2 linked regions of the Homo sapiens genome follow. The protein of the gene in region 2 interacts with the protein of the main gene of each other region in a pairwise test. Each region holds a gene or a part of one and is shown on either strand. Other genes may lie near its edges.

Region 1 (7,000 bases), on a different chromosome or scaffold from region 2:
TTCTCCGAGATCAGTTAGGCTCTGATATACCCCAGAAGGTCAGGCTGTGGTTAAGCAGTTTCTCTTGAGGGCAAGACTTGTTAAGAACAGGGTGCTCTGGCATGTTTTAAAGTGTTTTGTTTCCTCTGCCCCCTGCAAGATGCATAAAGAGATTTTGCTCCAATATTCACTGAGTAGCTAACCAAGCTCCTGGAGGCAAAACTCACAAAACTGTGGAGGCCTCCTTATGACTGGGTCCTCCTGAGTCTTTTAATTCAGACTTGTCCACACTGAGCCTCCAGTGGTTTGTCAGTTACGCTTCAGGTTTTCCTACTCCAGCATTGGTTCCCATGGTAGTTTCCACTTTTGAATCTCTGCTCTAGTAAGCTATGACTCCCTATCTTCGCCCTTCTCTCCAATTTTTGTGGCAGTGGTTTTCCCTTTTTCCTCTCGTCTCTTATAGGTCCAAGAAGAGTTACTAATTTTTCAGTGTGTTCAGCGTTTTACTTGTTAGGAGAAACTGGCAACTTCCAAGCTCCTTACATGCATAACTAGAAACCGGAAGTTCTCTTTTAAATTTTATATGCTTAAAGAAGCTTGACAGAGGGGTCAGGAAACCTGGGTCTACTCTTTTCTTCATCTGTAAAATGATGTGTCTGTACAAGATAAGTTATTTTTTAAGCTGCATTCCTTAGAACCGTGGAAATTTTGTGGCACTGCATCAGGGACTTCCAGGAAGGTGAAACTCCAAGCCTCCACCCACTCCTCGTTCAACCACAGCAGCTCAACTTTTATCTTTTATCTTTTCTTGTATATTAGACTTTTATACAACTTTATTTGAAATAAGGGTTCTAGTTCCCCCCTTCAAAAAAGCTTATAAATCACAGAGATCACCAGCTGCTCTCAAGTGTTATGACCCTACAATATAAAACCTTGTCATTGAAATCCTTTGCTGAGAGTTTATGAAGAAGTAGAAGAGAGAAAAAATATGAGGGCACTGGGAATGAGTAACTGTATCCTACAGTGGGGAAGAAGATTGTTGAAATGGTAGATTGGAGTCCTGAGCAAAAAACTTCACAATTTTGCATTTTCTTAGTTCAATTCTCAGGCACAAATAGTGTCCCTTTTTAGTTATGTTTTATAGTAAAGATTTGGAGCAGTTGGAAAATATCCTTTTCTTTATTTTTAGGAAGAAAGAAATGGATCGACTTTTGACTTGCCTGAATAGAGGTAAATATCTCCCTGGTTATATTCAGTCCTTCATCTTGCCTCTATTCTCTGTTGAATTCTCCAAGTACACTAAGCACAGCAACTTTAACCTTATGTTTGAGTTAAGCTTCATGCTCCTTATTAATCTTTGCCACAGGAATCTATTTTGGTTTCTTCATTCACAAGCAGAGAAAAGTGTGTCATCATTAGCATTCATCTCCAAATGTGATTTCAGTTCTGTTTTAATTCCTATTTGTTTTAAGGACATTTCCTTCCCTCCCTCCCTCCCGTCCCTCCCTCCCTCCCTCCCTCTCTTCCTTCCTTCCTTCCTTCTTTCTCTCCTTCCCCCTTCCCTCCCTCCTTTCCTTTCCTTCTCTCCCTTCCTCCCTTCTCTCCCTCCCTGTCCCTCTACCTTTCTTTTCTAGTAGCCACTTGATCCTAACCTAAGAATTGAACAGGTGAAAAAAGATCAAGACAAATAAAAATACTCTGAACCCTGCTGTTTTTTTCATACCCTCTGAATCAAATTCAGGTTGCATATTCTCTTATTTTGAAGCTGTCCACCCAAGTCTGTGCCATCTCCCTTATCTACTAATAATTTTTCCCTGTCCACTTTATTCAAGCTAATCTCCTAGTTGTATCACATTTTTTTTCTAACTACATGCTTTTTTACATGGCATCCCTTTTAACAGATCTCCCATTTTTACTGTCCATGTACCTCTTTCCTTATGTCCAAAACACACCAAAAAGTTCATATCTTAGAAATTCTATCCTGCTCAGTGCAGTAGTTCAATTTTATACCTCAAATACCTGTCAGCAGGGTGTTAAACATAGCAAAGTGGTTTAGAAACCAGACCACTTCTTTTCAAAAGAGAAAAACTTTGCTGGTTGGCATTCTTATTTCTCAGAAAGAGAATGCCTTCTGATAGTGATAGCACATTCTGGTTCTGTCCTGAGCTTGCTGGCTCAGTAAATATTATGCCAGCATATTGATACCCTTCTAATTTTCAATCTCCAGTTCAGTCTTTTAAACGATTGTTTCTATTTTTTATTTCCTCACATGTAAATCATATCTTTCTACCTCAGGTGGTGAATGATTGCACTAATTAAAATTATAAATCTCTCCAAAGACATGTTTGTTCCCCAGAGTTTGAGTTAACAACTTCTTGGAACTTGGTAATGCTTTCTGTCATTTTAATTACTTTTGGTATGCACCCCTACACACATACACAAAAAAGAACTTTCTAAATTCAAACTCCTGTGAGACTGTTCTTAAAGCAGGATTAAACAATTTTGCTAGAGTATAAAATAAGACCATCAGTATCAAATTTTCCTGTTTGATGCAGCCTTTGTGAAACTTTCTCAGCCTTTTGGTGAAGAAGCCTTAAGTTTGGAGTCAAGAGCTAATGAAGCTCAGTGGTTTCGAAAAACAGGTAAGAGGAAATTCTGTGGCTCTGGGAAACATTGTGGGGTGGTGGAATTAGACAGATGTGATTTCAAATTCTGGATCTTTCATTTGTAGCTGTGGGTACAGAGATAACTTGCTTAATCTGTTTTATTACTTATAAAATGGAAATAGTTATATATACTTCATGCAGTTATTAAGGGTTTTAAATGAAACAGCATATATACTTTTTTCATAGTAGATACTCAATGGACATTAGTTGTGTCCCTTTTCTATAGAAATGGGTCTAAGATGAAACTAATGAACTGTAACTACAGGTCCTCAAGGTTGTGCTCCTAAACTTGGTTTAGAATACTTAATTTTTTTTTTTTTTTTTTTGAGATGGAGTCTCGCTCTGTCGCCCAGGCTGGAGTGCAGTGGCTTGATCTCAGCTCACTGCCAGCTCCGCCTCCCGGGTTCACACCATTCTCCTGCCTCAGCCTCCCTAGTAGCTGGGACTACAGGCACCCGCCACCACGCCCGGCTAATTTTTTGTATTTTTAGTAGAGATGGGGTTTCACCGTGTTAGCCAGGATGGTCTCGATCTCCTGACCTCGTGATCCACCTGCCTCGGCCTCCCAAAGTGCTAGGATTACAGGCGTAAGCCACCGTGCCTGGCCTAGAATACTTAATTTATTTCTGAGTGTGATTGACCAAAAATGAACTATATACAACAATATGGATGAATCTCACAAACATAATGTTGAGCAAAAGAAGCTAGATATTGAAGAATACATATTGTGTTGTTCATTTTATTTATAATTTTTTAAATGGGCAAAACTAATATATGGTGTTATAAGTCAGGATAATGGTTACCCTGGAAAAGGAGTTGGACTTGAAAGTTGTAGGAGCTTCAGGGTTTCTGGTAATGTTCAAGATCTTTCTTAATGTGGGTGCCAGACGCATGGATATGTCCACTTTGTGAAAATTCATCAAGCTGTACAATTATGAGTTGTGTAATATACTTTATAATGGCTCTATTTCAATAAAAATGATTTTAAAACTTGCGGAGGCAGTTACTACAGTGATAAGTAAGCATGAGCAATTAAGCAGCAGTGCCACAAAGTGGACTGATTCTACATGAACCTCTCCCTGTGTTATGAGGTTTAATAGGGCTTTAATCCTGGGAGAAAGGGAATGAATACTGCAATCTGACTTCTAAGAAACTGATGCAAATAATGAAAAATAACAAACATTTAAAATATAGACAAGTTTGGTGACTTTAATCTTTTGAAGGTTTGAAAAGGAATGTTTTTACTTTACTGCATTTTAATTTGGATTTTCCAAGGGGAAGATGATGCTGACTGATGCCTGATGAGGGCTTCTACTGCTCTTTGGAAGATATGAATCTCTCCAGTAATTTTTCTCAACTCTTGATTACAGTGTACCTTGTTCTTAGGTGAATTTTAACTTACTTTCACCACTGCGAGTTAGTGAGCTCTATCCATGTTGATCTTCATTTTTAGATAGATTAGTGTCAATTAAGAATTTTTTTTTTTTTTGAGACGGAGTTTTGCTGCCAGACTGGAGTGCAGTGGTGGCATCATAGCTCACTGTAACCTCAAATTCCTGGTGTCAGTCTTCTGGGACTATAGTTGTGTGCCACCACACCTGGCTAGTTTTGTTTTGTTTTGGTTTGTTTTTTAATTTTTTTGTATAGACGGAGTCTCTCTCTGTTGCCCAGGCTGGTCCTGAACTCCTGGCCTCCAGCAATCCTCCTGCCTTGGTCTCCCAAAGTTCTGGGATTATAGGAATGAGCCACCAAGCCTGGCCTCAGCTAAGAATTCTTATTGCATGTCCCCAATTTTAAAAAATTCAGCAGTACCTCCCTTGGTCATTGGTCTAGTGTTGAAGATTGGAATTGACGAGGGTCTCTAAATTTACCTGGAAAATTTTTCTTTAAAACCTAAAGTTAATTGTTTAAACCTTGAGAAACCCCTTACTAGTATGTTAATATCAAAGGTGTAAGTATCAGAAATTGTAATGGTACAGACTAAATGGTAGATTTTCATAATTTCATATTATTATGTTATTTCATGTTAATTTCCAGCTTGGAACTTGGCTGTGCAATGTGACAAAGATCCAGTGATGATGAGAGAGTTTTTTATACTTTCTTATAAGGTAAGTTTCTTTTAATAAGTATCTCATGTATGGACCACAACAAGGCTATAACCACTATGGCTATAGTAAAGGGCTAAATATAGACTAGGATTGTCTCTTGATCTAGGAACTTTTAATATATATGTAAGCAGGAATGACCTAAGAAGAATTTGTTCCTTTTAGGGTATAACATAAGAATGTGGGGCATATCTTTCTATACCAAAATATCAGAAACATTCATCAGGGAGCCTAAAGTTCTACCATTTAAGACTTATTTCTTTGCCTTTGAAGGGATCTCAGCCTCCCAAAGTCCTATATTAAAATGTAAATATCTTTAGGAGGGGAATACTCTAAGTAGTTGTTAATTACCAACACATTATGAAGAGTTATGGGAATAAGTCTACAAGAACATAGAATAAGTATCTGGGGATAGCAGGGGCTGAAAAAAGAGATAAGAAGCTTAGGCCTCCTTTATAACTTTCCTATAGCAGGTCCTGAGTGTAGCGATTTGTGAGTTTGTTATTTAATTATAAGCATTTTTAAATAGTCGTTGGCCTCCAAGGTAGAGGTTAAATGCCAGAAAGAGGACCAAGTATTGACAGGAAGATAAAAGGAGAAGGACTAAAGAATATCCTTCATACACATTCAGGAATACACAGTATGATATGTTGAGATCAATTAAATGTTAAGAGTTTTAGAGCTAGAAAGAACTATAAAGACTATCTAGCACAACTCCTTCATCTCACATAAGAGTAATCAGAGACCTAAAGAGATTGGTTGTCTTAAAATGCTATTAATTTAATAACAATGATGATTATGATCACTGAATGTTTGGGGAGATTAAGAAATAGTCTTTGCAAGTTTAGGCATAACTGCCATTTTAATTAAGTGAAATAAATTGGTTTTAGTTTTGGCATTTGTGATGGGACTTGTAGGATTGGCGTGTAAGAATCCAAATGGCCTAGAGTTTTATTGTAGTAGCTGGGAGTTTTTCCTAAAACTATACAATGTTAATGATGAGGTCATGACTAATGCCTGTCAAGATTTGACAATGCCTCTTTCAACCATGACAATATATGAACTAATTTTGGCTCTATTCAATACAAAGGTGGAAATCTTATTTGCCAGGGGAAAAATCACTTACAAATTACAACATAAACCAAGAAGTAAATCACTAGATAGAAATACAAGGGCGAATGATACTACTTGTCACTGGAAAAGATAGGAATACTGTGAAGAAATGAAGCTTTTTATCTCTAGGAAGGTACTAAAAACAATGGAAAGTAATATAAAATTAAAAGCATAAATCAGTATTATAGTTTATATCATTTCTATGGTGACATGTGCTTTTCCAGCTGAATTTTCTCATTCAAACAGGAAGTTGCTGATTTTCATTCTGATTGTTTGTGTTCACCTGGCAGAATTCTCACTATTCATTGATGTTCTGGTTACTTCTTATCAGATGTCCCAGTTTTGTCCTTCTGATCAAGTAATTCTGATTGCACGGAAAACATGTTTACTTATGGCAGTTGCAGTTGATCTAGAGCAAGGGAGAAAAGCTTCAACAGCTTTTGAACAGGTAATGTGCAACCTTCAAAGAAAAGACAAGAGTTCAGTGTGCTATTTGATATGTTTGCCTTCCCTGATGCAGTTCTTTTTGATTCTCTTTAGAGAATCCTTTTCTCCACTCCAGCATCGTCTTGATTTCAAAAGTTTGTAATGGCTAATTCCTTCCTAAGCAAAGGTTACTTTTGGTGTGGCCTCTTCTTTTAAGAAGATTAGATATCTCTTCTTTTAAAATTCCCCTTCCTATGGACCACTCTTTCCAAAAATGTTTTTAAATATCTTTTATCTTCATTGTCTGCCTGTGATTATATACGCGTTTGGACTCCACTTTTGTTTCTTACCACATCTTCTAAGGAAGAACTCATCTGTTTCCATAGCTTTGATAGCCATCTGAAATTATTACTTATCTGGTTTTTCTTCTCTCAATTGCATTTGCTTTCTTTTTCCCACATCCTTAAATATCTCATTAACTTAATTTCTACAAGACAGAATTCCTTACCTTTGCCTGAATTCCCCTATCAGATTCTTAAATGTTACCCCTTTTAGGAGCTATCAATATCACCGTCTCCCATACACCAGATTATTGGTTTGCTTTTAGCTGTTTACCTTTCTTCTTTCAATCTAAGAAAATTGTCTCCAAATCAGACCAATAGCATTTTTGTATGATTTTTAAGATCTAGATCTCTCTGCTTGGTTTCTCGT
Region 2 (8,852 bases):
CACTGAAAAAAGAGTAGCCTTTTGAATAGAATAGTCTACCAAGTGAACCATTTACTTGAAACACAACATGCAAAAGATTGTGAAATATGTCAGTATAGAAGCCTGTGGGTTTATATATAGACATCTCAGCAGTGCTTTTCACAAGTTCTACTCCATATCACATCAAGCAACTGTTTGGTGATTTTGGGGGACTGTTAATAGTACCTGTGTCTTGGAATAATTAACCATATCTTAGTTGGGCTTCTTAGAGTAGATGTGTTCACATTGAGATGTATGAAAGAAAAGAGTTATTTTTGTTCAATGGGTGAGCAGCACTTATCCTTAGCAATAAGGGAAGGCGACAAACAGTTTAGCTTCTGAATAGAGAATGGTCTATTCAACACTATATTTTGTCGGTAAAGTTTCTTTTTGGTCCCAAAGTTTCTCTTCGGTGCCTTAATTTCTTCCTTCTGATTTTCGGGAAAAGTCAGAGGTATAGGTGAAACTGGCATTGGAGACCTCCATGGCAGACATCTTGTGGAGACCATTTTAACCATTGATTGATTTGTATGGCCAATAGTAGGTTTGAATGAGAGTTCTTGGCATGGACTTAAAATAGAACTTTTGGGATTCTTATCATAAGTTTCAATCAATTGTTTTGGGGTGGAAGAACTTTTTAGAGACAGTGGTCTAGAATTCCATCTATATTTGCCAGCATTGCTCCAATTCCGTTTTAAAGCATTTTGTTCAAGCTTACAAGAACCAGAGTTGTTTTTACTTTTTTCTTGACTTTTATCTACACAAGGTATCTGAAGACTCAAAGAGTCGCAAAGTTTTGGCTGTCTCACTTTTGGTGTAGCTTTGGAGGAAGAGGGTCGTTCAGTAACTGCTGGAGTACAGAAAGTCGTTTGTAGTCTTGGCCTCTCTTTTTGAATAGTCATATGTTGTAATCGTTCTAGTTCCAGTAAACGAGTTATCAAGTGTTCAACAGAGGTTTCTGCAGGGTCCACTGTCACTTTCCAATTGTCAGATTTGGAGAGGGCTAAATTGTGCAAGTCTAGAGCACTGAAAGGAGGAGGGAGAAAATCAGGATATGGAAATACTTCATTTGGCTCCTCGGTGAAAGGTTCCTCAACATTTTTTATTGTTTCTGGCTTCAAGTTCAGGTCCACCTTTTTAAAATAGCTGAGTAAAGTATCATTTGTCTTCTCATTTTCTGATAAATCACTTTCATCTGTGAAATTTTCTTCCACACTGCTGTTTCCATGTTTCAAATTCCAATTTGGAGCAGGTAATGTTTCACCATCATTGTTTTCTATAGTTGAACATGAACTAACATGAATCTCATTTCTGTTCTTAAAAAAGTCTCCATCAGCATAGGGCCAGCAGAGACCTAATGGCATTGGCAGTCCAGGGTAAGGACCAACTTGCTTATCAACTGAAGCAATTGTTAATGGGTGGTTCAGAGTGAAGACCCTTATAGGATGATTGATTACATTAAAGCCAGTTTCCACTGAAGATTTTTTGAATTCCCTTTAAAAAATAATTTAATTAATGAATGGTTTATTGACTAGAATTAAAATGCTATTAAAATGATACAGTTAAGTACCCTTTATCAAAGATTGGTTAATGTTTAGTTCCCAATGGCATATGTGTATCTAGCTACCTGCAACAGAAATATGTTAGTTTCCAAAAATGCTCTAATATACAACTACATAAATTTTAAAAATATAGATTAAAATATTAACTGGGCATCCCTTTGTGCAAGCACAGGTGACTAGATTATGACACCTAAAACGGCTAACTGTAGCTGTGAATAGACAAAGGTTAAAAGTGGCTAACTATATGTTTGTCTATAGTGTACATGCAATTATTATGTTTGAAAATGAGGATATCTAACTCAAACTGAAATTAAAGTGAAATGTTTATTGATCCAGAATTAGATAAAAGGAAACTCAAAAAATGTAATTAGGTTACTTTAAAAAGCCTTCTATGTTAGCCACTGTGGTTTTTAAAAATTACTGTAACAAAAAAGGAAGCAAACAATACCTATTAAAAATTATCCCAGATATAGTCCCTAGTAATTTTCATATAATGATGCTCTTCTATTTTAGGAGTAATTCTAGGTATTATGTTAAAATGAAAACTACAAAAAAGCCATAGAATACTGAGTTTCTAGTTAGTTTTTGTTTTTTAAAGATAACTAGAAATACTGAGATTAAAAGATTTGATGCATTAGTTGACATATAGTCTTGATATCCTCTTGTTTCTTTTTAAGCCAGTTGACATTAAAGATAACAAAGTAATCTGGAAAAGTTTTGAAAAATACTTTCGAGGCCAGGCACAGTGGCTCACACCTGTAATCCCAACACTTTGGGAGGCCAAGGCAGGCGGGTTGCTTGTGCCTGGGATTCTGAGACCAGCCTGAGCAACATGGCAAAATTCTTGTCTACAAAAAATTAGCTGGGCATGGAGGCATGCACCTGTAGTCCCTGCTCCTCTGGAGGCTGAGTTGGGAAGACTGCTTCAGCCTCAGAGGTTGAGGCTGCAGTAAGCCATGACTGCACCACTACACCCCAGCCTGGGTGACAGAATGAGGCCCTGTTGCAAAAAAAAAAAGAGAAAAAGAAAAAGAAAAAAATACTAATTTAGCTAAATACTAGGCATACTGCTTTGCCTTTGAAAAACCACAGGAAAATCACTTTAAATCTACAACTGTTAATAGACACGTACATGTAGTATGAAGAGTGTGAAATCTGGAAAGGGAGGGCCTAGGTTTGAACCCCTTTGCTACCAGTGAGTGAGCAAAATGGAAATGATAATACCTACCTTGGAGGTAGTCTGAGAAGCAAGAGAATTTATATGAATATGCTTTGCAAAATGTTAAACACTAAGTTATCGTTACTTTTATTCTTTTTATTTGTTGATGGTATATTGAGGAGAAAAATCTTTCATTGATACCAAACTTCCATCTCTGCAACATTATTAAACCTACCCAATATTAATAGCAAATGCCTGCCAAACACATTGTTCTGTTTAGTCCTCACAGCCTCATGAGATAGGCACTTTTATTTTCCACCTTTTGCAGATAAGGGAACGGGGGTGTAGAGTGGCTGAGGGCACACATCTAGGAAGTGGGAGAGCTGGAACTGCACGTGGTGGACTCCTATGCCCCAGGTCCTAACCGCTGCATTCTACCGCCTCCATTTGTTTGCTCCTCTGCTACTGTCATAAAATTCAGTTCACTTCATTTGACCACTTACCTTGAAATACTTTTTCCCAGCTGAGGTTTTTTCTCATAAAAATAGCCTTTCTTATCCCCATCAGCACCAATATTCCTTTAGGTCATCAGTCACCACAACTGCCATAGAACTTGATTTCCCCCTTGAATTTTAACATAAAGTGAACTGTATCCCAGGCCTCACAGAAGTAAAATTCTCTGACTAGGAGATGGCTGATAACAAGTGAACCACTCTCCTGCTAAATAAACTACACAAAAGAGCCATGGAACTCAGGATCCATGAGCTAAGACACTATGTAAAAGCTCCACAAAGCAGCCCTCAAAAAGCATTCATTTCCAAATACTAGTAACCTGTGTTTCCAAGAAGCCTTCTAGCTAGTCTTAATGCACGATAAAGTTTAAGAATCAAAAAAATAAGAATTAACATTCAGGGGCCGGGCACGGTGGCTCACGCCCGTAATCCCAGCACTTTGGGAGGACGAGGTGGGTGAATCACAAGGTCAGGAGTTCAAGACCAGCCTGGCCAAGATGGTAAAACCCCATCTCTACTAAAAATACAAAAATTAGCCAGGCATGGTGGCGGGCACCTGTAATCCTAGCTACTCAGGCAGCTGAGGCAGAGAATTGCTTGAACCTGGGAGGCAGAGGTTGCAGTGAGCTGAGATCGTGCCATTGCACTCCAGCATGGGCAACAAGAGTGAAACTTTGTCACACACACACAAAAAAAGAATTAAAACTCAGGTAAGGTTGGGTGCAGCAAACCACCATGGCACGTGTATACCTATGTAACAAACCTGCAAGTTCTGCACATGTATTCCCAGAACTTAAAAAAGTATTTAAAAAAAAAAAAGCGGCCTGGCATGGTGGCTCACACCTGTAATCCCAGAACTTTGGGAGGCCGAGGTGGGTGGATCACCTGAGGTCGGGAGTTTGAGACCAGCGTGACCAACATGGAGAAACCCCGTCTCTACTAAAAATACAAAATTAGCTGGGCGTGGTGGCCCATGCCTGTAAACCCAGTTACTCCAGAGGCTGAGGCAGGAGAATTGCTTCAACCCAGGAGGCAGAGGTTGTGATGAGCTGAGATTGCATCTTTGCACTCCAGCCTGGGCAACAAGAGCAAAACTCCGTCTCAAAAAAAAAAAAACCTCAGGTAAGGTCTGAGAGGCTACTTTCATATCCTGGCTCTCCCTTTCATTAATATTGTGTGACTTTGAGCAAGTTACTTAACTTGTCACCATGCCTCAGTGTCCTCATCTGCAAAACAGGGATGATAACTACCTTCCTTACATGGTCGGTTGTGATTTAAATGAATTACTACATATAAGGAATTAACATAGTCCCTGGAATGCAATACTACTTTCCTATTACAGTTCCTTTTGCTTTCAACAGGAAGTCCATACTTTATCCATCTAAAACCTTCATTGTCAGAACATGGTCAGCTCTTGACTCCTACCTATTCTAATTGTCTCGTGGTATCTGCAGCCACTTCCTGCTTTAGGGTGGACTTCTACAATTGCCCACTATTCCCACAGAATACTATTTTCTTCTGGTTGTTCATGGTCCTTGTATTTCAAATAGTTATCTCATGTGTATCTAAATTTATTTCAGTAATTTAGGGTGTTACAAAATAACTACTCGCTTACCTCTTCTCTATGGTACTTCCTTCATTAAGAGGACAATTCCATAATTGAAAGATCCCTTGTTTACTATTCTGATGACAGAAAAATAATGGGTAATAGTTTAGTAGCTGCATATATTTTTAAAATATAATATTTTAAGGGTATGAAGAATAAAATCCCACCTGTGTACTTTTTTGACTATGCACCGACAAATTAGGTTCTAGCATCAGTTGCTCCACTGGAATTTCCAAATAGTTCTATAAGGCAGCAGAAGACTTTTAAACATAATATATCTCTGTTCCCTATTCTTGTTCTAACAATGTATAGTTCTTGTTCTAATCAAGGAATGTATGGTAAAACTGAATGACACTTTGTTTATATACAAAGAAATCATTTGTTTTTACTGATTTCAGCAGAAATTAGTAAAACCTATTTATTATAAATACCAACTAAACTGTTAACTAATAAGACTTGAATATCATTAAGATTGTCTTTATTTTGCAGTGAAATGTTTTATGTTTTGATCAAAAAGGATAAACAAAAAGATTAATTTTCCACTACTTCAGAACAAGATATTGGTCATTTCAACTGCTTCAAGACATTTTGTTGTTGTTGAGACAGGGTCTCGTTCTGTTGCCCAGGCTGGAGTACGGGGGCACGAACTCGGCTCACTGAAACCTCTGTTTCCCGGGCTCAAGCGATTCTCCTGCTGAGCTCAGCCTCTCGAGTAGCTGGGACTACAGCTATGTGCCACCATGCCTGGCTAATTTTTTTGTATTTTTGTAGAGATGGGGTTTCACCATATTGCACAGGCTGGTCTCAAACTCCTGACCTCAAGTGATCCACTTGCCTCAGCCTCCTAAAGTGCTGGGATTACAGGCATGAGCCACTGCACCCGGCCTGCTTCAAGACATTTTAAAGGACAGGACTACTTCCCTTTCGGCAATGACTAAAAAATACTATACTCAATTTTCATTTATATTATTGTTATACTGAAAAATACTTAATATAACAAAATATTCATTTAATAACCAACTTGAAACTCTAAAATATTTGACTTTGACTTGTGTGAAGAACTCTACAGAAATGAAATTTAAAGTTTAACTTTCAGGAAGAAAATTTTTTTAAAGAACATACTTATTTTAAAATCGTATGTTTTATGAATACCTTAAAACCAAACATTCATCCTTACCTTGTTAATTTTGCCTGAAATGTGTATAAAAAATGACAATTAATAGTTACATAAAACTGATTATATTCAAAACAAACCCCCTTTTAATATGAGTGATTCTTTCAGTATAAGTATACACATCTAGGATTTCTTACCACCTGCTGCTCCATCCCTTCCAGCTGGGAGGTTTTTATTTTCAGAAACAGGTACTTCTGAATCCAAATTCCAGTGAGATAAGTTCTAAAACAATATTTGTTTTAGGATAAACTTAACATTAAGAAAACATAAAAAGCTCAATAATTTCACATGTTCTTGGGGTAAAGTATGACGAAAGGCACAAAGCTTCATGACTCTCACCCCTCATTATAAAGAACTTATCAGCATCTTTGAGGAGAAAGCAATTTTCTCTTAACCAAGCCCTTATCAGTTTGATAATGCCTATTGTTGAGGAATCAGGCTTTTACAATAATTTGTGGTTTCGTTCACATTTTGTTAAATATAATAACACAGGTTTTCAAAATTGATTTTTAAAATGTAATAAAATGTCCTGTTCAGTGTGCCTCTGGAACACAATGGTGCATTCATCAAACTTTCTATATCTGAGTATCAGATCTAAAAGTCTATAAAAAGCCAGGTGTGGTGGCTCATGCCTGTACTCCCAGCACTTTGGGAGGCCGGGGCAGGTCAGGATCACCTGAGGTCTGGAGTTTGAGACCAGCCTGGCCAACATGGTGAAACCCTGTCTCCAATAAAAACACAAAAATCAGCCAGGTGTGGCGGCACGCACCTGTAATCCCAGCTGTTCGGGAGGCTGAGGCAGGAGAATCGCTTGAACCCAGGAGGTGGAGGTTGCAGTGAGCTGCAATCACACCACTGCACTCCAGCCTGGGCCACAGAGTGAGACTCTGTCTCAAAATACATACATAAATAAATAAAATTAAAAAAATAAAAGCCTGTAAAAATCTTTCCATCAACCACAGGAAGTCTCTAACCCTCATATTATATTCAACACTAACCAGCCCACTACTCATTCTGGCTTCCAGATGTGGAGGAACACTTAGGAAATATTCAAAAGAAAGCCAAAAATAAAACGGGAAAGGTGCTAATAACAACTGAGTATTTATGTTCCAGACATTGTGCAGAGTGCTATGGGGGAAAATGTGGGAGGTGTGTAGAAGATTATAACAATTTATTCTGGAAAACAGAAAGTGAAGAGGTGATTCGTTTATAAGAAAGTAACTTTTTAGGAATGAACCCAATTGTTTTCTGTCTCAAAAAAGCATTGTAAATTAAACTCTAAGCAAATGAAATGTGAGGTATTATTAGATACAATCTCTTCACTAAGGAGGAACAGAGAGAAATAAGCTTCAATACAGCATGAGGATTAATTTATCCACAAAGAGATATCTCCTGATAGGAAGGGTAGTTGAACATTGGAAGGGAGACTGCAGATTATCATTCTCTATAGATTTATGAAAAATATAATTAATAAAATTAATTCTCTGCTCTCTGGCATGATATGTACAAGGGCTAATCTCTACATGAGAATCACCTGGGGAGCTTTTTAAAAATAATAGTTGCAAAAAAATGCTGCAAATCCTGATTTTAAAGAATGAGGGTGAGGGCCGGGCGCAGTGGCTCAAGTGGCAGTAATCCCAGCATTTTGGGAGGCCGAGGCGGGCAGATCACCTCAAGTCAGGAGCTCTAGACCAGCCTGGCCAACATGTCGAAACCCCATTTCTACTAAAAATACAAAAATTAGCTGGGCGTGGTGGTGGGTGCCTGTAATCCCAGCTACTTGGGAGGCTGAGGCAGGAGAATCACTTGAATCCGAGACGCAGAAGTTGCAGTGAGCCACGATAGCACCACTGCACTCCACCCTGGGTGACAGAGTGAGACTCCGTCTCAAAAAAAAAGAAAAAAAAAAAAAAGAATGAGGGTGAGGCCCAGTTATTTGTATTTTAAAGATCCTTTTGTAGTTCACAGCACGATGACTGGGTTTTTATGTTCATGTGTGAGATGCACCCCTTCAGACTTTTTTACGATGTCTGGTGGATTTTTAAGCTTTTTTCAGCTATATAATCCTGATACTTTTGTATGAAATGCACGTGAGAGAAATATCCTCAGCTGATGAAACTGTGTTGTTGCAATTCTAAAATAAAATTAATGAAACCAGGCCAGGCATGGTAGCTCACACCTGTAATCCCAGCACTTTGGAAAGCCAAGGCGGGTGGATCACTTGAGGTCAGGAGTTCAAGACCAGCCTGGCCAACATGTCGCTACTAAAAATACAAAAATTAGCCGGGCGTGGTGGCACATGCCTGTAGTCCCAGCTACTCGGGAGGCTGAGGCAGGAGAATCGCTTGAACCCGGGAGGTGGGGGTTATAGTGAGTTGAGATCGTGCCACAGCACTCCAGCCTGGGAGACAGAGGAAGACTAAGTCTCGTCTCCAAAACAAACAAACAAAAAACACCAAAACAACAAAAAATTAACATAACCAAATTGATCAACTGGTAAAGAATGCTCATTAACTAAACATGAAGTCTGACAGTTTGCAAATTTCTTAAGAGTTGGGACTTGATTATGCTTTGTGATATCCCACCTGCCTTACCAATATTTTTCACAAAGGGTGTGTGTGTGAAAACAAAAGAAGTGAGCACTGCCTGGTTGATAACAAGGCAGCACCTTTAACAAAGCCAAATTGCAATTAGAAATGTTTGACATTTGGAGAAGAGCTGGCTAATTTTCCCTTTGTTAAAAGAAATAGAAAATTTCCATTTGCTGTTCCAAATGTGCCAAAAGGAAAACACAGGATAAACTGCCCACGATGCAAACGCA

The links. Proteins that work in one complex are often made in the same cells at the same time.
Region 1: the proteins of FAM217A (region 2) and TEX11 interact in binary tests that used the Homo sapiens proteins (3 or more experiments, as listed by UniProt).

What each region holds. Positions count from the first base shown.
Region 1 is NC_000023.11:70,604,712-70,611,711, reverse strand, and holds part of TEX11 (testis-expressed protein 11), read left to right. Parts: intron 1-1,168; coding exon 1,169-1,209; intron 1,210-2,534; coding exon 2,535-2,621; intron 2,622-4,682; coding exon 4,683-4,753; intron 4,754-6,194; coding exon 6,195-6,311; intron 6,312-7,000. UniProt on the Homo sapiens protein: Regulator of crossing-over during meiosis. Involved in initiation and/or maintenance of chromosome synapsis and formation of crossovers.
Region 2 is NC_000006.12:4,068,409-4,077,260, forward strand, and holds part of FAM217A (protein FAM217A), read right to left. Parts: intron 8,072-8,852; exon of another isoform or gene 7,981-8,071; intron 6,254-7,980; coding exon 6,169-6,253; intron 6,049-6,168; coding exon 6,035-6,048; intron 5,100-6,034; coding exon 5,025-5,099; intron 4,935-5,024; coding exon 4,867-4,934; intron 1,513-4,866; coding exon 288-1,512; 3' UTR 1-287.